3 separate regions of the Homo sapiens genome follow, and all the other regions are linked to region 1. The links come from fine-mapping of genetic effects on gene expression. A gene starts in region 1. Each other region holds a variant in brackets. All regions are shown on one strand. Distances are between the middles of the regions. Region 1 holds the start of NTN4 (netrin 4). Region 2 overlaps SNRPF-DT (SNRPF divergent transcript). Region 3 has its middle 82 kb from the start of USP44.

What was found. PIP is the estimated chance that this variant, and not a neighbour inherited with it, causes the effect. A credible set is the group of variants that fine-mapping cannot tell apart.
Region 2: its variant is the best candidate, but not a certain one, in a credible set for the expression of NTN4 in whole blood (INTERVAL, PIP 0.78).
Region 3: its variant is the best candidate, but not a certain one, in a credible set for the expression of NTN4 in breast (GTEx, PIP 0.77).

The regions. Positions count from the first base shown.
Region 1 is chr12:95,788,838-95,794,679 of GRCh38, reverse strand. NTN4 (netrin 4) reads left to right here and starts at 3,916. Exons shown (of 10, transcript NM_021229.4): 1 at 3,916-4,425. The coding sequence starts at 4,371. It also overlaps the pseudogene RNU6-247P.
Region 2 is chr12:95,848,005-95,855,778 of GRCh38, reverse strand. The region is part of intron 1 of SNRPF-DT (SNRPF divergent transcript); the gene reads left to right. Among named protein-coding and RNA genes, the nearest start is that of SNRPF-DT, 6.9 kb to the left of the region's middle. RefSeq lists cis regulatory regions at 4,693, 5,616 and enhancers at 4,621-4,765, 5,544-5,688. The variant A/G (reference allele first, on the strand shown) is at 4,031.
Region 3 is chr12:95,629,305-95,637,078 of GRCh38, reverse strand. No RefSeq gene overlaps it. Among named protein-coding and RNA genes, the nearest start is that of USP44, 82 kb to the right of the region's middle. RefSeq lists an enhancer at 2,921-4,120. The variant G/A (reference allele first, on the strand shown) is at 3,388.

The DNA of each region.
Region 1 (5,842 bases):
TATTGTTGAAGAGTCAAATTTTCCATAAAAGTGATCACCTTTTCAGAAAATAGGTAATTAGTTCTTTGAAAACTAAAAGTTTCTTTTAAAATTTGTAACCATTTTTCAAACTTAGCAGCTTAAATTTGTTGATTTATTCTTCAAATTCATGTTTATTGAATGCTTACTACATGCAATGTATTTTAATGGAAATATTTCCCTCTGGTAAAACAAAATATATTTTACCTTTTATTGATGACTCTGTAAGATACCAATATATGAAAAAAGGATTTTAGCTGACTTCAAATATACCAGCCAACATCACATTAGGTTACAGAAATATAAGCCATAGAGCTAAGTTAAGGAAAATGTTAGTTCTATTCTATGTTGATCAGACAAACCTGGAGTTGAGTTCTACATGCACAGTGTAAGACAAGCTGGGGTATATCTGAAAAGAGGTGATTAAGATGGTGAAAAGTGTGGGAATCCTGTCATATGGGTGTTTAAACTAAAAGGATAGTTAAGATGAAAATTATTAAAACTTTACTTTAAATCATTGAATACCTACCAGAAGAGAAATTGGACTTATTCTGTATGGTTGCAGATGACTAACCTATAAACACAGAATTTTAAGAAGAGAAACATCCCACTTAAATAGAACAACAGTGCCAAAAATGAGCAGAATTGCCTTTGAGGCTCTTGTTTATGGAGATTTTTAGAACAGAAACTGGATGACCTTTGGACAGAGGCTTTGTGGAAAGGGGTTTTGATGGAGTGAGAAGTTGGGCTCAAGGGTCCCTCCTGATTCTGAATGTCTTACGCTCCACTAGGAACCTCACTTACTCTACTAAGTTACCGGAGAGTGATGCCTTTATAGCTTTTTCGTCCTTTGTTTCTGCACTAGAAGGCCTCAGACTGCTGTGGATGTTTTGGTTTTGTTTTTGTACTTATGGCTGCTTTTTAGAGTTTTCCCATCCTTCTCATTACTGGATTGCCTCAGTTTATCCCCTGTCTTTAATAACATCCTGCTCCATTCTAATCTGTTACTTCTAATAGGCTGTGATCTAGAAAGATGTCATAACCAAACTTAATAAAAATACATGAATGATTTAAGTGAGGTCCTGAAGGGCTCTCCTGTGAGTAAAGTCTTTGGTGCAAAGAGTTTTGCCATTTATTTTATTTTATTTATTTTGAGACAAGGTCTCACTCTGTTGCCCAGGCTGGAGTACAGTGGTGCCAACACAGCTCACTGCAGCCTCGACCTCCCAGGCTCAAGCTATCCTCCCACCTCAGCCTCCCAAGTAGCTGGGACCAGAGGCATATGCCACCACGCCTGGCTATGCCATTTATTTTACTTTTTAAAGACCCTTTTAACTTCCTTTCAAGTTCTCAGGAATATTCTAGATTTAACTTATCAATTTTGTGGTTTCTGGGAATTGTTATTGAAATTCTGTAAGTTTGCTAAGCTTCCTACTAATTCATAAAATTACAAAATATTCTGAATCCATGACTGATGTTTTCAAAAACAAAATCATAGGCAATAATATACTTATCCAAGATTTTTCTTATGTAGGTAACCTTTTCTTGGATAGCTTCTTCAAAATGAAAATATCCTTTGTAACTAAACTGGACTATATAAGCAAATGATGTTTATTAGAATGCTGACTATTTTTCTCTCCTGAGCTTTTCATATAGATAGTATTGGTGTCGAATGTGCAGATTCCTTTTGAATATGGGAAATCATTGTGATATAACTGGTTTTCTCCTTAGTCCTTAGTCTCCTTAGCCCCTTAGTATATAACAATAGTTTTAACACAACTCAGTCAAAAACATGTAATGAACACTTATTGTAGGTGTTCTTGGCTAAGAATAAGGAAAAATATCAGAAAAACATAGTAATGTTTTGTATAAACTGAATATTAAAGACTGTTCTACCATTAGAGAGCTTTCTGTCTTGTTAAAGGAAATAAGAGCCAGTTATTCAGCAAAGAAATATATTATCAATGCAGGATTCGTGCAGACAGTAAATGGCTTTGAAATTTGTAATGAGATATGGAGTAGTTCTGTGATTGCTTTGGCAGCACATATGCTAAAATTGGAACAATACAGAGAAGATTAGCATGGCCTCTGCATGAGAATGGCATACAAATTTGTGAAGCATTCTATATTTTTAGCAATATATTGTACTCTTGAAAAATGCTAAGACAGTGAGTGTATTCTTAAATGCATGTTAATATGCAAAAATGCATATGTTCATTGGCTAGATTTAGTCATTCCACGCTGTATACATATTTCAAAACATCATGTTGTACATGATAAATACATACAAGTTTATTTGTTAATTAAAAAACAGAAATGGATTAGTTCTGCCTAAATATACTAGACTCAGAAGTTAATAATAAATGTGCATCCACCCCTTTGTTTAATTTGCCTTGGCTATTAAGTTAACATTTATGCTAAGAACCTTTGGCTGTTATAGTTTCCTATCATTTATTTGGTAAAAAGATTAATTGGAGAGGTGTTTCAATGGCTCCATTAGGAGATATGAAGAAAGCCCCACCATTGCCAGTATTTGGGAACTCAAAGCGTTTATTTTCTAAAGCAGGTGATGCTACATGAATTGCTGTCCACACCTTCTGCTACTTTCCTCTGTTGGCCAGAAGAATAATTTTAATGTCGCCCAAATGGATTATGCTGACCTCAACCCAGATCCCCCTGGGAGATATAAACTTCTTATATGTTCCTGGCTGGGTCATTGTAAATAATATCTACATGTATCCCAAAGCTCTGAATTATCCTCATCTGTAACAGACACAACGACTAAATGGTATCTGGAACGTAGTTAATTTTCTGGAAAATATTCAAAGGAACAAAATGAGCACTGCAATACAAAATTGCTGTCGACTTAACTTTTGCCAGTTTCCCTGGATGTGTAAGTAGAATTATATTTTCACAGAACTTGCAAAAATCTCAGACTCGGCTGCTATTTAATCTCTTTCCAGAAGCACCAGCCCTGAGCAATCCTATCTGCAATTAGCTGCGTGTGGTTGCTACTAAATTGCTCCCCATAAGTTAGTTCCTAACACTGTTTCACAGCACGGCATACTCTATAAAGGGAGAACGCTTGGAAGGACCGAAGAGTTCCCTTTGTCGTGCCCTTGCCCTGCCTCTGGACAACGATGTTCTTACACTGCCGACTAGCTAATCCTGTGACCCTTTTCTTTCAGCACCTTGAGTTTGAGTTAGGCAATACCTCTTACACCAAAGTGGGCACACCTTCGGATCATGTAGGCAGCGATTGTTTAGCCGAGACATCCCCCTACCCCCGCAAAAGGCAGCAGAGAAGCGGCGAACGCCGCTTAGCAGTTGGCGCGCTCTCAGTGCGGGTGACGCGGGGCTGGGTTGGGGTGTTCCGTCCCCGGGTCGTGGGACTCCCCGAGAGGGGGTGGCTGGAGGAGGAGGGAGGGCTTGTTTCGCTGGGGGATGTGGGAAGTAGGCGCTAGCCTGTTTCGCGGTTTTTTAAGCCCCTTGGCATGCCCTGACCTGATCTAGAGGGAGTCTACTGCTCTTAGGAATGTTCCGGGAGAAGGTGGGAGATTGCTTCCCAGGGGAGGCCTGTGGGTGCTGCAGGGCACCAGGGGGGTCACTAGGGAGATGCAGGGCGCGGGCCAGGAGGGGCGCCAGGGCAGCCGGGGGCCAGGCTGAGGCGACCGGGACCAGCGGGCAGCCGGGCGTCGGGGGCGTCGGTCGGGGCGCGGGGGACCCCCCCCCCGGGCGGCAGCGGCAGCGGCGATCCGATCCCGCGGGCTGCGCCGCCCGGGCTGTCAAGCGCGGGGGGCGGGCGGGAGGAAGGGGTGGAGGTGCGAGGGGAGGAGGGCTGGCACCGGAGCGCCGCGGCGTCGGTGCAATAAAAATGCATCGCATGGAACTGCCCGTGGAGAAGGACGGGACGGAGCCGGGGCAGCCAGAAGAGGTGGGAAAAGCGGAGGAGGACGCCCAGGAGGAGGCGGCGGCGGCGGCCGGGAAGTGAAAGGTCTCGCAAAGTTCAGCGGCGGCTGCGGGCGCCGAGCCCCGGGCTAGCGGCAGACGAGCCCGCAGGGCCGCTCCGCGGGGCAGCGCAGCCAGGCCGGCTATGGTCCCGGGGCTCCCGCCGCCCCCCAGGTGCCCGGGACCCGCCAGGCCGGTGCGCGAGGGTCACCCCACCTCCCCGCGCGGTCCCGGCCCCTGGCTCCCAGCTGCCGGCGACCGCTGACCGAGCCCGGCGCCCCAGGAGGAGGAAGAAACCAGGGCCCCGTTCCCTCCCGAGGACGGCGGCGCTTCATCCCGCAGCCCAGAGGTCTCGGCTCCCTCCGGCACCCGCCCGGCCCGGCTGCTCCCGGCTCCTCCCGGCCATGGGGAGCTGCGCGCGGCTGCTGCTGCTCTGGGGCTGCACGGTGGTGGCCGCAGGTGGGTGGTGACGCGGCGGGGCCCCCACCCCTTCCCTCGCTGCTTCTCTAACCCATCTCGGGACTCGGGGGTGCAGGGGAGCCAGGGCTGCGAGCGCAGAGCGCTGCTCCCGAGGGTGAAATGAGTGGCCATGTTCCGCCTCCTTTCCCCGGGGCTCCGCAGTTTCAAATACTATTGATTTATTTTTACAACTGGGATACACATGCGCTTGGATAACCAGCTATCCTGGGTGCGCCCTGCCGGGGATACTGCGACCGGGGTTTCTTTCTTGGTTTGGCTTGTTAAAAAACTGCTTTTCCACTTGGTGAGGGAACAAAGGACCCAGCTCGCCATCCCCCGGCACTTCATGGCCTAAGGAATGATGAGGAGGGGTGGCCCAGCGACCCTGGGCGCGCGTGGGCTGGGGCCGGTCTCTGGTAGAAGCCCATCGCTGGTGTCCCTGACCTGGTGCTGGGTACTAGAGAACCAGGTAAGGACACCTGGGGCAGGGCTGAGCGCCCTCTCCCCGGAGCAGTGACTGGAACGCAGTGGGACTCCTGGCTTGGACGATAGGTGGTGATCACCCCGGGCTTGCATTGAGCTGGCTGGCCGCCCCTGGGGAATTGGTACCCTGGCAGAGACTCTGCGGGAGGTCGGAGGCGGGTCTGCTCCCTGGCTCGGTAACTGGACAACCGGCGTCGGCGTCGGCAGATGCCCTCTCCCTCCCACTCCCATCCTGGCTTTCTTGGGCTGCCCTAGGCCACCGGCTCCTGGCTCGTGGTTTCTGTATTCGGGAGCCCCTTCTGCTCCTCTCCCTCCCTCTTGCGGGTCACCTGGTTTCCAGTTAGGCGTAAGCGCAGCCCTGTAGGTGAGGGGGAGAGATGTGAGGGAGTCTGCAGACATCCAGTCTCTCGTGCGGATCTTGACTGCTTCAGAAAGGGGCGCCTGGGCTAGAGGGATGCGCTGGTGGCTACAGAACATTGTAGCACGCATCTCCTCCCTTGGGCTTCCACTCTTCCCTGAGGGCCGCTGGCACCCAGCAAAATCCAGGCTTTCCAGTCTGCATCCCAAACCAGTCCAAGTCACAGGAGCATCCTTAGTATCATTGAATAGTCCCTTGAGTGACTCCAAGTATTTTGCCCCATGGATTCTTTATCTGGCTCAAATCTTTTCTGGACTTAGGAGTTTAGGGGCATTTAAAATTATTGGATATTTTTCCCAGGGACCTATTAAAGGCCTAAGATTTTACTTTAATTCTTGCACTCTTAAAATATGAGCTTTAAAAAAAACCTTTTCCTTCTCAAACCATATTATGGCAAAAACATGCAAGCCATTGAAAGGTTGTAAATAAACATCACAAGGCAAGTGTTTCAAGTCAAAAATACTTGTACAGGCAGTATATGATTTTCCTTGAAATTTTTTACAGGTGAGTCATAGC
Region 2 (7,774 bases), 60 kb before region 1:
AAACGACCCCTAATTGTTAATTAGGATGAACAGTTTGGTGAGTTCTACCATTATTTATCCTATAACCCAAAAATTCCAGTTGTATACAACCATCTAAAAAGGAATTTATGAAATGATTTAGAAATATTTACTGAGGTGAGTAAAATGAATGTATGATGTCTGCCCTTGTGGAATTTTAAAACCTCTTTGAGAAGAAGGGGACCAATACATATTGAATGCCTTTCATGTTATGCTAGGATATTTTATTATGTAATTTGTCTAATTTAAATCCTCACAGTACTTCAAGGTAGATATTATTATCATCCCCATTTTAGAGATGAGGAGACAGCTTCAGAGAGATTATGTATTTTTGTCAAAAGCCATGTGGAAGGTAAAATGGCTCCAAAGCCTAAGATTTTTCCTTTATACGATGCTGCCGCTCCCAAAAATGTGGTTAAGTAGAGTACAAATAAACAAATATATAGAAATACAAATATTAATGCAGTCAATGAAGAGGGATAGCATTTAGGAAGTTACTTTTGAAATTGATGAGCTCTTCTTTTTATTTTGTTTATTCTCATAATTCCAACATCTTATTTTTTTCTGATTATGGCCAGAATCAGCTACAGGTATGATCGGAATAGGTTTAAAGGAGGAAAAATCCAAGATTTGAATGCTGTCAGGTGGAAGCTTTTTATATATTTTTTGTCAAACCTGAGAGATATGGTATTCTGTCTACCGAAGAAGTTAAGATTAAAAAATATATAAGCTTCTTTGGATCATACAAACACTGAACCTAGATTAGAATTCAAATCTTTTTGGTGGTTCAAAGCCCATTGTACCATTATAGAGAGACAATCATACCTCAAAGGTGTAGGAGCATAAGAACCTCCTCTCTCACCTCTTGAGGTTTGATATTTGAGTCTGAGAAATAAATAGACAATAGACCAATTGGTCTATCTATCCAAAACAAGGAGAAAAAGCACAGCGTAATTGATTTATGCGCATGGGAGCATCACAGGAAGGCGAATGCCCAATTCTAGTAGTGCTAGACCCAATAAGGTCTAGAAGTTTATATACCCTTATGCATAGGGGAGAGGGGAATGCAGGATGTAGGCAATTTTAGAAGAGTAATAAGTGATTTTTACAAGAGATGAATGGGTCCATGGAACAGACAATAGTCTGGGACAAAGTTCATCTGGGCTGTGGGTATGGTGTTTGATTTTCAGTCTTTTCCTCTGTGATATGAGTTTAATTTTCCTTGGTTAATGAAATTTCAGTAAGAAGATTGAAGACAATTGTTTTCCTCTTCAGTGGATTGGATCTTTAGGTAGATAAGGAAACTTCAGAGAAAAGTCTCTTCCTGTGCTTCAGGAGAGGAGGAGGGGCAAGAGATGGGGGGTGGGAGAAGGTCAGAGAGAAGGTCAGACCTTGGTTCTGAGGCTGCTGCTTTAGTGCAAAGTAGCAGTATGCTTCGGGGTATCATTTTCTGAGCCCCAACAAAGGAAACCTGGTATTGTGGGTAGGAGCCAATACTGTCTGAGTTCAAATCCTGACTCTGCCATGTGCAGCTTATCTCTGCTTCAATCTCCTCATCAATAAAGAGGATGATCATGATAGTACCTATCTTAAAAAAATTTTTTTTTAGTGAGGTGGGCTGTAACTATGTTGCCCAGGCTGGTCTCAAACTCCTGGGCTCAAGCAATCCTCCTGTCTCAGTCTCCCAAGTGGCTGGGATTATGGGTGTATACCACCATGCCCAGTTCAATACCCATCTTATAAGGCTGCTATTAGGATACAATATTTGTGGTGTTTATCCACCTCCTGATACTGAATAGTTTCTGTAGCGAGGTACGTAGGCACGTGAGTAGGTCAATGTGACCTACAATAACTAATGCTAATAACTAATATTGGACTACTTGTTTGCTGTTTGCTAAACTGCTGCTTGCTCAAAAAGTTCTGGGCTGTTGGCTTTGATTCTTCAGCTGTGCTGGAATCCACTGTGCACATCTATCTGTCTGGGTCTATCACTTCACCTCTTGGGACCTGGGGGGCAAGGGAGGCTGACATGGCTAAGACAATGCTTCTGTTTGCTGTGTGTAGTAAACTGTCTTGTTCTGATCCACATAGTCTCATTGTCTCCTTTCAGCACCTGTGGAGAGACAGCAGGTTTACTCCTTGCTACCTGAAGTTGGGGTTCTCTCCTGACTCTCACAGGGTTAACATTAAATGAAGAACATTAAATGAGATAATATATGCAACGCAGTACAATATCTGGTCAGTTCGATAAATATTTGTTCTCCTACATTTATATTCAATCAAAATCTAATTATCCCCAAAAGCTTGGTTTAAGTAATGTAAAACCAATGTAAAAGTAGCACCTTATATATTTATGGGGAGACCAATCCCTTTATGGACCAGAAAATTAGTTTGCCTAATAACTCAAGATATAAGAGATTAGTCTAGACCCAAAACCACATTTATTAGCCATTAAGTGCAGAGGGAGCTGGAGGGAGCTAGCAATCAAGGACCTGGGAAACAGATGAGACAGAAAATGAGTGGATGCATACAATTTGTTCATATATATTGAGTTATATTAAAAAAGCAGTATAGGCCAGGCAGTGTGGTGCATGCCTGTAATCCCAGCACTTTGGGAGGCCGAGGTGGGTGGATCACTTGAGGCCAGGATTTCAAGACCAGCCTGGCCAACATGGTGAAACCCCATCTCTACTAAACCTCGTCTCTACTAAAAGTACAAAAATTAACCAAGCATGGTAGTGCATGCCTGTAAGCCCAGCTACTCAGGAGGCTGAGACACAAGGATCACTTGAACGCAGGAGGCAGAGGCTGCAGTCAGCCGAGATGGCACCACTGCACTCCAGCCTGGGCGACAGAATGGGACTCTGTCTCAAAAAAAGAAGGCAGTATATACGGCAGCAGAAGATAATAAAAACAGTATATTTAATAGCACATTATATGATTGTTTTATATGATTGACAACATAATGGTTGATAATGCTGGTTCTAGAGGCCAGGTTCGAATCTGAGTTTGAATCCTGCCCCCAACACTTACTAGTGGGAACTTGTGTAAGTTACCCGCCCTCACTAAGCTTATTTTCCCATGACATAGGGATAATTGTTTCTTTCTCCCAGTGTGGTAGTGGATGTTAGGAGTTAGTACAAGGTTGTTCCTCTATCCTTCCTGAAGATGTGGTTTTAAAACCATTAGATGGAGTAAGCAAAGTATGCACCTGTGCTGGGGTATGGGGGTAGTCACAGTGGTCTGAATGGAGTGAGGAGAACATCCACATAAGAGAGCAGCCAGTGTGGGGTGTCAGAGCCTGAGCAGGAGGAGGAAGGTATCTACATAGGAGGGCAGGCAAACATGGGAAGTTGGTGCCTGAGGAGGTGAGGATGGTGATCACGCATGGCGAGGGGCAGCCCAGCACCAGCCATTGGAGCCCAAGTAGGATGAAGCATCCCCAGAGGGTGGCCTGACAGGGAGTGTTGGAGCCTGAGTGGGGTTAAGAGGGTGTCCACACTGCGGGGAAGAGGGTGGCCTGCTGTGGAGTGTCAGAGCCTAAAGGAAGCAAGGAGGATGTCCATGCAGAATGACCTGGCACACGGTGTCAGAACCTGAATGGAATGAAGAAGAAATGCAGGGGAGGGGACAATGGCAGGAAGGGAAATTTGTTACAAGGGCACTAATCAAAGGAATCAACCTATAATAATGAGCATACTTAATGCTCAGGTTTTAGTTTCTAGAAACTGCTTCCCACTAAAGGAATCAGGATCCCTTCGAACATTGGCTATTTTCAGTCTTCTTCACTATAGTAACTGGTAGACACCATCTTATTACAATCCAGTGATCAAACAACTATCGTTAGCAACTGGAAAATCAAAATCAGGTGCCACATGATAAGATGCAAAGAAAAGATGCATTCTGTGATATTCTTACCAAAGCCACATAACCTGAATCTAGTAATCAGGAAATATCAGACAAACCACATTGAGGAACAAAGTGGCCTGCAATGTTCAAGAGTGTCAAGGCC[A/G]CAGAAAGATCTCCATGATAAATTGCTGAGAAAGACAAGGCACCGAATAATTTGCAAAATATGCTGCCTCTGTATAAAAAGAGAAAGAAGGGGATAACAAGCTATCCATTTCTGTGTATGTGCATAAGTATACTGGAGGGCTCCTAAGATACTAAGAACACGGGTTGCCTATGGGTGTAGTGGGAACTACACTGAGGGCAGACAATGATGAGATGTTTCACTATGCATTTTTTAAAAACTTTTAATTATGAAATTCACATATTAACCATTTCAAAGTATACAATTGAGTGGCATATAGTACATTCACAATGTTATTGCAACCACCACCTCTATATAATTCCAAAACATTTTTGCAAGTTCATTTATTTGTTTGTTTGTTTTGGGATGGAGTCTCGCCCTGTCACCCAGTTTGGAGTGCAGTGGTGCAGCCTCGGCTCACTGCTAACCTCCGTCTCCTGGGTTCAAGCGATTCTCCTGGTTCAGCCTCCTGAGTAGCTGGGATTATAGGCACATGCCACTACACCCAGCTAATTTTTGTATTTTTAGTACAGACGGGGTTTCACCATGTTGGCCAGGCTGGTCTTGAACTCCCGACCCCAAGTGATCTGCCTGCCTCGGCCTCCCAGAGTGCTGGGATTTCAGGCATGAGCCACTGTGCCCAGCCCATTTTCACAACTTTAAAAGAAAACTCTGTAGTCATTAAGCAGTTCCTCCCTATCTTCCTTCTCTCCTAGCCCATGGCAACCCTCAGTCTGCTTTCTATCTCTATAAATTTACCTGTTTTGGATATTTCATATAAATAGAAACAACATGTGACCTTTTATATCTGGCTTTCACTAAGTGTAATGTCTCTGAGCTTCACCCACATTGTAGCTTGTTGTAGTAGTAGTACTTCATTCCTTTTAATGTATGAGTATGATTCCACTGTATGTATATACCACATTTTGTTTATCCCTGCACCTGTTAATGGACATTTGGGTTGTTTCCACCTTTTGGCTACTGTGAATTTTGCTGCTATGAGCATTTGTGTACAAGTATTTGTTTGAATACCTGTTTTCAATTTCTTTGGACATATACCTAGGGGTGTGGAATTGCTGGGTCATATCATAATTTTACACAGAACTTTTTTTGAGGAACTGCCAAACTTTTCCACAGCAGCTGCGCCATTTTATATTCCCACCGGCAATGTATGAAGGTTCCAATTTCTCCACGTTCTCACCAACAATTTGTTATTTTCCGTTTTTGTTGTTGTTTTAATTATAGCCATGCTAGTGGCTATAAAGCAGTATCTCATTGTGGTTTTGATTTGCATTTTCCTAATGACTAATGATGCTGAGAATCTTTTCATTTGCTCATTGGCCATTTGTATATCTTCTTTGGAGAAATATCTGTTCAAATCCTACATACCCTTTTAATGTTCTATTTTTGGAACTTTTGAATGTATTGCCTACTAAAATAAAAGAAAAAGTCATTTAATTGTCTTGGATCTTATTTTCTTCCTTTATACACTGTAGGGATTGGGCTAGATCAGAGTTTTCAACCTTGATATTATTGACATTTTGGACCAAATAATTCTTTTTTCTTTATTTTTCTTTTTTTCTTTTTTTGAGACCCCGTTTTTTTGAGACGGGGTCTCTCTCTCACCTAGGCTGAAATGCAATGGCTCAATCTTGGCTCACTGCAACCTCCACCTCCCGGGCTCTAGTGATCCCCCCATCTCTGCCTCCCAAGTAGCTGGAACCACAGGTGTGCACCACCATGCCCAGCTAATTGTTTGTATTTTTGGTAGAGACAGGTTTTCGCCATGTTGTCCAGGCTGGTCTTGAACTCCTGAGCTCAAGCAATCTGCCTGCCTCGGCTTCCCAAAGTGCTGGGATTACAGGAGTGACCCACCGCAACCAGCCACAAATAATTCTTATTTTGTGACTTGTCCTGTGCATAATAGGTTGCTTAGCAGCATCCTTGGCCTCTACCCATTAAATGCCAGTAGTCCCTCCCCCACCCAGGTTTGACAACCAAAAATGTCTCCAGGCATTGCCAAATGTCCCCTGGGGAGCACAGTTGCCCCTGGTTGAGGACCACTGGAGATCAATGGCCCCACAGGCCCCTGAACCTGGATCAGTTTGCAGGTAGTGTTGTGGCTTTGCAAACTATTTTCAAAAACAAAGAAAAATAACCAACAAATTGTACATTTATTTTAATAAAGACACTATAGACTAAGACCTCATGTGTCTTTGCTTTTGCTTGGAATGAAGTCACCTTAAAATACGAATACTGGTGGATCATCATGGGTCAGAAGCTCTGACTGGCATTTATTTATGTATCTGATTATTAAAATGGGAAACAAATTTTAAATAAGTAATGTCTTTGAGTTTTGTAAATCATAGATTCAATCTGTGGGGGCGAGTAGATAATAAAAGAAGTCTGTGGATGAAATGGCTGGAAACCACTCAAGTAGATGATCAGTGTTCAATACTGACTTTAAACACTTTTCTGTTTTTTGCCATGGTTCCAGCGGGTGGCAGTGGTGAATTTGGAATAAGAGTTCTGTTTGCCACATAAGCACTTCAAAGTTAATCAGTACAAATAGGACTTCACTGTTCTCAAAACACTAAAGGAAACAAAACAAAACCTCATGGAATTTTCCCCATAGTATCCTGTGCCATACAGTCTCCCCCCACCTCCTTCACCCCTCAAATGTCTCCATTGAATCCAATTTTAAAAAATAAAGCTTATTCTACTTCCTCATCTATTACCCTGTTGCCAGAGGTATCTGACCTCCTTTCCTTCAAAACAAACCGAAGACCTGGACATTTTAGTTGGATATGGGTAACCTTTGTTGGTTACCCATGACTAGCAGCCTAAAACAAACTCCTTCATCTCTTTCCCTTCTGTCCCATGAACCGCAAAGCTGGCCCTTGCACCGCCGGCCATGCTTTTTCTCACAACTCCACGTACTTACACAGGACGTTCTTACCACCTAGAAATCCCTCCCCATTTGCTTTGCCTGAAAAATGCCTCCTCATCTAATCTCCATGGCCCCACTCAAATGGGCACTTCATATCTGAAGCTTTCTCTGACTTCCCTAGGTAACTAATTGTTCTGTCACATGGGCTCTACCCCACCTGTTTTAGCACTAACTACACTCTCTTTTAGAGAAAAAGGTATTTTATTCATTAACCCTTTGTTGCTATTACTAGTCATTTACTAGCACATAATTAGTTCCCTGGCACATAATGGCAAATTTCTGGAATGAATAAATTAATGAATAACTGACTTGAGAGACTTGGACTTTAAAAATTTGCACCAATTCAAACATATATATATATATGCCAAAAAAAAGGGGGGTGGAATCAGGGTGTCCACCCTTCTTACTCAAAAGAATGGAATATACTGAACAGTAGAGCATTCTCCTGCATCAGCCTCCCGAGTAGCTGGGACTACAGGCGCCCGCCACTGCGCCCGGCTAACTTTTTTTGTATTTTTAGTAGAGACGGGGTTTCACCGTGTTCGCCAGGATGGGCTCGATCTCCTGACCTTGTGATCCACCCGCCTCGGCTTCCCAAAGTGCTGGGATTACAGGCATGAGCCACCGCGCCCGGCCCTAGATAGCCTATATATTCTATTGGCTCCATTACTTGTGCTATTAGCCTTAACTTCTTGATTAGGGAACTATCTGCCAGGTTTCTTCATTGCAAAGTTACCTTTTAAAATTGTATTATTAAGAAGTATTTTGTGAAGGTA
Region 3 (7,774 bases), 160 kb after region 1:
CTCTGACTATTCCATTATTGGATTTATTTCAGTTTGTGATAACCAGACTGGATTACTGTGCTCAAGAGGGACCAGGCTCTTTAGTCTCAGGCTCCATGCTGTTCCCTCCTGCCATGGCCTACCCTACTGGCAAAGCTTCATGTGCTCTGATGTCCCTTGTTGCCTTGGCAGTTAGTCACTAACATCTCATAGTCATTTCTTTGCCATTGTGAATAGTGCTGCAGTGAATATTCACATGCATGTGTCTTTATGATAGAATGATTTATAGTCCTCTGGGTATATACCCATAATGGGATTGCTGGCTTGAATGGTAGTTCTGCTTTTAGCTTTTTGAGGAATCACCACACTGCTTTCCATTGCAGCACTATTCGTAATAGCGAAGACATGGAATCATCCTAAATGCCCATTGATGACAGATTGGATAAAGGAACTATGGTATATATACACCATGGAATACTACACAGCCATAAAAAAGAACCAGATCATGTCTTTTGCAGGAACATGGATGGAGCTGGAAGCCATTATCCTTAGCAAACTAACACAGGAACAGAAAACCAAATACCACATGCTCTCACTTATAAGTGGGAGCTAAATGATGAGAAATCATAAACACAAAGAAGGGAACAGCAGACACTGGGTTCTCCTTTGAGGGTGGAGGAGGGGAGGAGGGAGAGGAGTGGAAAATAACTGCTGGGTGCTAGGCTTAGTACCTGGGTGATGAAATAACCTGTACAGCAAACCCTGTGACACAAGTTTACCTATATAACAAACCTGCACGAGTATCCCTGAACCTAAAACAGAAGTTTTTTCTAAAAAAAAAAGTTACTTCTTAGAGGTGCTCTGCAATACCTTCGTCAAAGGGTAGCTCATAGCCGTTTCTCCACTGAGTCTCCATACTGCTGCAATAGATTATATTTCATAGCTCTTTCCAAAAAGTCTTTTTGAACTAAACTTGTGTAAGTCCCTAAAACATTAGTAGAGGAGGCCGGGCACGGTGGCTCATGTAATCCCAGCACTTTGGGAGGCTGAGGCGGGCAGATCACCTGAGGTTGGGAGTTTGAGACCAGCCTGACCAACATGGAGAAACCCCATCTCTACTAAAAATACAAAATTAGCCGGGCATGGTGGCAGGGGCCTGTAATCCCAACAACTCAGGAGGCTGAGGCAGGAGAATCGCTTGAACCCAGGAGGCGGAGGTTGCAGTAAGCCGAGATCACGCCATTGCACTCCAGCCTGGGCAACAAGAGCAAAACTCCATCTCAAATTGTCACACTTGAAGCTGCCATTTAGACTGTGTCCTTTGGGTCCCTGAGGTGGGATATGGCCCACTGTCTCTCTTGTAGCCTCATGTCCTTCAGTGTGTTATTTGCCTTTCCTAAATGAATCCTATCCCTACTGTCACCTCCAGATGAAACAAGGATGCATTAGTAACACTAGTCCCCAGTCTCTCAGTTCCCCAGGTGTAGCCCTACCATACCCTGGGTTATATTTTTAAAGGAATGGAGACCATGACTATAGGCTGCGTAAGAGTCAAGTTACTCAACTATTTATTAAGCACCTTTTTATGCCCACTACCAAGGAGTTCCTGGCACTCAGCTATCATCACTAGTCTCAACAGGAATCCCTGGAAGGGTGATTACATCACATGCTTTTCACAGCCCCCTTGACCTCCAATAGCTGTGGTGTAATACTGGGTGATCATGGACACAGAATAGAGCAAGTCTAGGCCGCAGATGACCCCAAGGCAGATGCAATGCAGCTGACTCTCACATCCTCCTCCATCCTTCAAAAGGTTCAGAGTAAACAGTGCCTTTATGTTATGGTCATTATTCTGTGATTCCCTTCTCTGCTTCATTACCTCATGTCTGTTGCTTTGACTATAAACACAGACCAAATGCCAAGACAGAGAGTAAAGTCACCAGGAAACCCAGCTCCAGTGCCAAACCCACCTTTGCACCCTTGGACTGCAGCTATGTTTGTTTAAGGATGGCAGGAAAAAGGTGCACACATGGCTCAGTGCTCATTTGCTTCCTGCTCTGTTAGGTATTAAACCTCAGAAACTAGGGCAACTCTCAGTCTCTCTCGCTATAGCCAACTGACTAGAACATTAACCTCCAGTTTAACATCTGATATGGTTTGGCTGTGTCCCAACCCAAATCTCATCTTGAATTGTAGCTCCCATAATTCCCACGTGTTGTAAGAGGGACCTGGTGGGAGATAATTGAATCATGGGGGCGGTTTCCCCCATACTGTTCTCATGGTAGTGAATAAGTCTCACAAGATCTGATGGTTTTATAAGGGGACACCCCTTTTGCTCGGTTCTTATTCTTTACTTGCCTGCTGCCATGTAAGACGTGCCATTCACGTTCTGCCATGATTGCGAGGCCTCCCCAGCCACATGGAACTGTGAGTCCATTAAACCTCTTTTATAAATTACCCAGTCTTGGGTATGTCTTTATCAGCAGCATGAAAACAGACGAATACAACGCCCAATGAGTGTTTGCCTCCTCTCCTCTTCTCTTCTTTTTTCTTATCTCCTCCCAAGTTCCTGTAAGCTAAACACCATAATGTAATAAGCAAGAAGTATATGTTGCAGGATTTCTCTTGTTTATGGTTCTTATAGAAAAAATATTGTTGATTATCTTAACCTGCATGTAACTTATAATAACAAAAAGATTCCTGTCAAATAATTCTCCCTTAATAAATTCCCTTTGCCATTATAAACTAAGACATGACCTTGAAGAATTAATACCCAGACAATACAACATTTGTGTGTTATTTAATTAGCTTACTGCTTTTGTTAATGTACATTCCTGTGGTCACACACCACTTTCCACTCAAACCTAAAAAAAATGCTACACGGGATGAAAAACTTTTTTACCAGTGTGTCCATATTTATGCTCCCTTAAAAATCGTTTTTAACCTCCTAGCCAGGAGTTTTGAGGTTATCTCAGGACAATAGCTAATTTATTAAGTCCTAGACAATTATAACAACAATAAGCCTTTGTGCAAACTTTTGGCATACTAGAGATTTGGGGTTAAAAAAAGAGAGAGAGAGAATTTGTCAGATCCAGCAGAGACCACTGTCATTTTGGTACCATCTAATCCCCATTATGAAGTGATTTTTATCAAACTGGGAAGTGATCATCTGGCAGCATAAACGACACTGGAGAAACGAATTCAATACATCAGAGAGGTTATTCCATGTCATCTACATGCTCAAACAGGAGAGACAGAGAACATTGGCTCTCATAAATCCTTAGTTTCCGGCCAAAGGCCTCTCAGAGCTCTTGGCTGCCTAATCAGATGTCTGGGATTGTGAAAGCAAATGAAGTTTATGGAGCTGAGGGGGAACTTCTGATTTACCATAAAAAGGAGGTTTGAACT[G/A]GATAACTTTTTCAGTATTCTACATAATTATCTGATAATTATGTAATTATCTAATAATTATTATCTCCATTTTACATATGACACAACGAAGACTACAGAGAGTTGAGAAACTTGCTCACAGTCCGGCAGCAAGGAAATGATGGATTCAGAATGCAAATCTTCCCACCACACCCACATCACAGAGGAAGCTGCAGATCTTTACCGGTGATTCCATTTCAGCGCCCCCAGGTTGCCCAGTCTGGGCATGATGTAGTAACCCGGTGACTCACAGCACCGCACTCATGAGGTTGAGAGTCATTCAGTGATTCAGCAAGTACTACTGGGCAGCTACTGTGTGCCAGGCACTGGTCTAGGTGCTAGGGATACAGCAGTGAATGGAAAAAACTGCTGTCCTCACCGAGTTTACACTCTACTCAGGGGTAATAGATAAATAAATAAGTACATAATAATGTCAGGTAGTGATGAGTGCGATGAACACAGATAAGGAAGGGCAGGGGGCAGTGGCTCATGCCTGTAATTCCAGCACTGTGGGAGGCCAAGGTGGGATGATCGTTTGAGGCCAGAAGTTTGAGACCAGCCTGGGCAACACAGCAAGACTCTGTCTTTACAAAAAATAGAAATAAAAAATAACTGGGTGGGATGGTGTACGTCCATGGTCCTAGTTACTTGGAAGGCTGAAGACAGAGCAGCAGGAGGATCATTTGGGGCTGGGAGGCGGAGGCTGCAGTGAGCCAAGATTGTGCCACTGCAGTCCAGCCTGGGCTACAGAGTGAGACCCTGTCTCAAAAATAAATAAATAAATAAAATTTAAAATTATATGTATTTGAAAAGAAGAAGAATACATTTGAGCAAAGACTGAAGGAAATTAGGGGAGAGGGAAGAAAGTGACCCATGTGGTATCTGGGAAAGAGCATTTCAGGCAGAGGGAATATCAAGGGAAGGGCCTAAGCAGGAAGCTTAGACAGTTAAGGAAAAGTTCTTAGAATATTGCGCCAGGCTGCAGCAGAGCGAGCAAAGTGGTAGTTGAAAGAGATGAGGGGCATGGGGTGGCAGGGATGGAGGGGATCAGGAAGAGCCCTATGGCTTCTGAAAATAATTGGGATTTTACTCAGTCTGGAAGTCTTTGGAAGGTTTTCTGTAGCAAAGTGATATAGTCTGATTTACATTTTAAGAAACTCACTCTTAGTTGCCAGCTAACTTGGCTGTCACCAGTTAGCAAGGCCCCAAACCACAAACAGAATGAGAGGTAAGATGATAGTGCAAAAAGCACAGGTTTGGGAACTAGATCTGTTTCCAAATCTCAGCCTTCATCATCTGCTGGCTCTATTAACCTTGCAGTTGTTACTGTAGCCTCTCTGAGCCTCAGTTTCCTCAACTGCAAAAGGAAAAAATAACCTCCTCTATACTTATTAATTAAATATAAAGCACATGAAATATAGTAGTTAGCACTAAAAAATAAAAAATAAAAAAACCAGCCTTGTAGTTATTCGATTTAGTGATCAACTATTGAGTTACTTTATCATTATTAAAAATAATGCAGGCAAAAATTAGCCAGGCATGGTGGTACACACCTGTAGTCGTAGCTACTCAGGAGGCTGAGACACAGAATTGCTTGAACCTGGGAGGTGGAGGTTGCAGTGAGCCGAGATCGCACCACTACCCTCCAGCTTGGGTGACGGAGGGAGACTCTGTCTAAATAAATAAATAAATAAATAATACAGGCAAGACCTGGATTGAATAATATGTCTTCTCTGCCACTAGAATAATCACAACAAAAAATTAACAGTGGGGAAAAAATGAAAGAAAGATGTGCTCTTCCTTGCTCTTAAAAAACAACCCGGAAAATTGTATCCTAGGAAATTTTTAAGTATATACAAATAATTGTAAAGCAAGTAATGAATCTTAGTTCATTGTACATAGTTTCAGTAATTAGCATTTATCCAATCTTATTTTATCTTGTTTTTCTGGAATATTTTAAAGCAAATACCAGATATATTATCATTTCAACTATAAATCCTTCAGTTTGTATTCCTAACAGAAAAGAAGTTTTTGTTAACATAACTCCAATACAATGATTGTGTCGAACAAAACTAGCAATCATTTCTTAGTATCATCTAGTTAGTACCTAGTCCATGTGCAGATTTCTCAACTATCTCAAAAGTATCCTTTTACAATTATTTTGCTCAAATCAAGATCTAAACTAGGCCCATCAATTGCAGTTAGCTGATAAGGCTGTCAAGTCTCTCTTTATTTATTTATTTATTATTATTTATTATTTTGAGACGGAGTTTTTTTGTTCTTGTCGCCCAGGCTGGAGTGCAGTGGCACGATCTCAGCTCATTGCAACCTCCACATCCTGGGTTCAAGCGATCCTCCTGCCTCAGTCTCCTGAGTAGCTGGGATTACAGGCACATGCCACCACTCTTGGCTAATTTTTGTATTTTTAGTAGAGACAGGGTTACACCATATTGGCCAGGCTGGTCTCAACCTCCTGACCTCAGGTGATTCACCCGCCTTGGCCTCCCCAAATGCTTAGATTACAGGCGTGAGCTACCTCGCTTGACCTCAAGTCTCTTTTTATCTGCAACAGTCTCTTCTTCTTCTTCTGCCCCTTCCCCTGCTCCTCCCCTACTCCCTCTCTCTCTTCTCTCCTCCTTCCCCATCACCTCTCCTCTGTCTTTTGCTTTGAAAAAACTGTCCCTCTACATGCAAAGACATCAAATACTATACTGGGGACACTCTCCAGTGCTTCAGAGAGGAGTAAGAGGAATGCTTTTTTGTTTCCAAGAGAGGAGGTGAATACTATGAACTCCCGTAGAGAAAATACCATGTAATATGGTGAGGAGATGGCTGAGAGCCGACTTAGACTTTTTAATATGGGTATAAAGGGCTGTCATGGAAACGGACCATATGATCTGAGGCTTCTCTTCCAGTCCTAGAATTATCTGGGATCTATCAAGAGATAGGTATTTAGATGATTACCATGGGAAAATGACCAACAGAATTTCCTGTTTTCTGTTAAGGAGCAACCAGAAAATGTTTCCTTGTTGGTTAGAAATGACAAAAGTGTTTCCTTCCTGCCTGGTGGAAAGGAAGGGGATAGGCCGGTTGTCACTATGAAAGGCCGATGCTGCCCTTAGCACTGATGGCCTAATTGGGTTGGTTTAGCTAAATCCAACTCTGGAGTCATAACTAAAGCTAGTCAGCCTTTATTAATACTGTCAGGTAATTCTTAGAACAAGACTAAAAAGAATTACAGGGATACTGATAAATTCTGAATGAGCAGAAGTGGTTTTTTGAGATGAGAGAAAAGAAAACCAGGTTAAGATAGCTCCTTTTGATTCCATACCATGGTATAAGTAAGTTTTGCCAAAGGATCACTTGTGGAAATAACTACCAAGGTGCTAAACTTTCAAGATCTTGTCCAAGAAGTGACTTCTGAAAGCAAGTACAAAAGTCACATTTAGATATTGGTTCCCATACAGTTAAAGAAAGTGTATTTATTTAATTACTTTATTTAACTATCAGGTACAAAATCCCTTTGCAGACTTTAATAAAACCTGGGATCATGCCACTTCACTCCAGCCTGGGCAAAAGAGCGAAACTCTGTCTCAAAAAATATACATATATATGGTGATAAAGTTTCCCATTTTCCAATGCAGCTTCACATTTGAACAGCTCTAATTGATACAGCATTATGGCAGGGTTTTTGTGTGTGAGTGAGATCCAAAACACTCAATCATGTAAAAGGGTACAGTCCTGTTGTATGTTAACACACTGATCATATAAGCCTATGAGATGAGCCAATCACCAATTATGTTACAGTCGAATCTGCTTTGTGTTGGGATGCTTTAATGTAGGGTTTCACTAAATAAATGAATTTTCATATACTGAACTGAAAAAAAAGACCAAAATTAGAAATGAAGTATATTTGTATTCATTGCAAATTATTTTGGACTTGGGAATCCTTTTGAAATGCCCACGTGAATCAACAAGCAGTGGGAGGTGAAGAAAAAGAGCGTGGTCTCCCACTCATAGCTAATTCTGGCTCTGGTAATCAGAGAAACATAAGAGGCAGCCAAGTAAGGACTGGCAGCTCCAACCGGCTTGTTTTGTTATTTTGTCTTTGACTCAGTAGTCAACCTTCCTTTGGCATTCATTGGAGTGTGACCTAGGACTAGGCCCACTGTGTTCTGAGTATAATAATTCCTCATCAAAATGTAAAGCCAGGAGTCTAGTTGAATGGGAGGGCCTATCACATGGCTGAAAATGATGCAGGACAGGCAAGCCCCAAAATTAGGGTTTAGCCCAGGAGGGTTCTTAGCTTCACCCAGGAAAGAATTGTGAAAGGAAAATCTTGGAGTCCCAAAATCATTAAGCTAAAGGG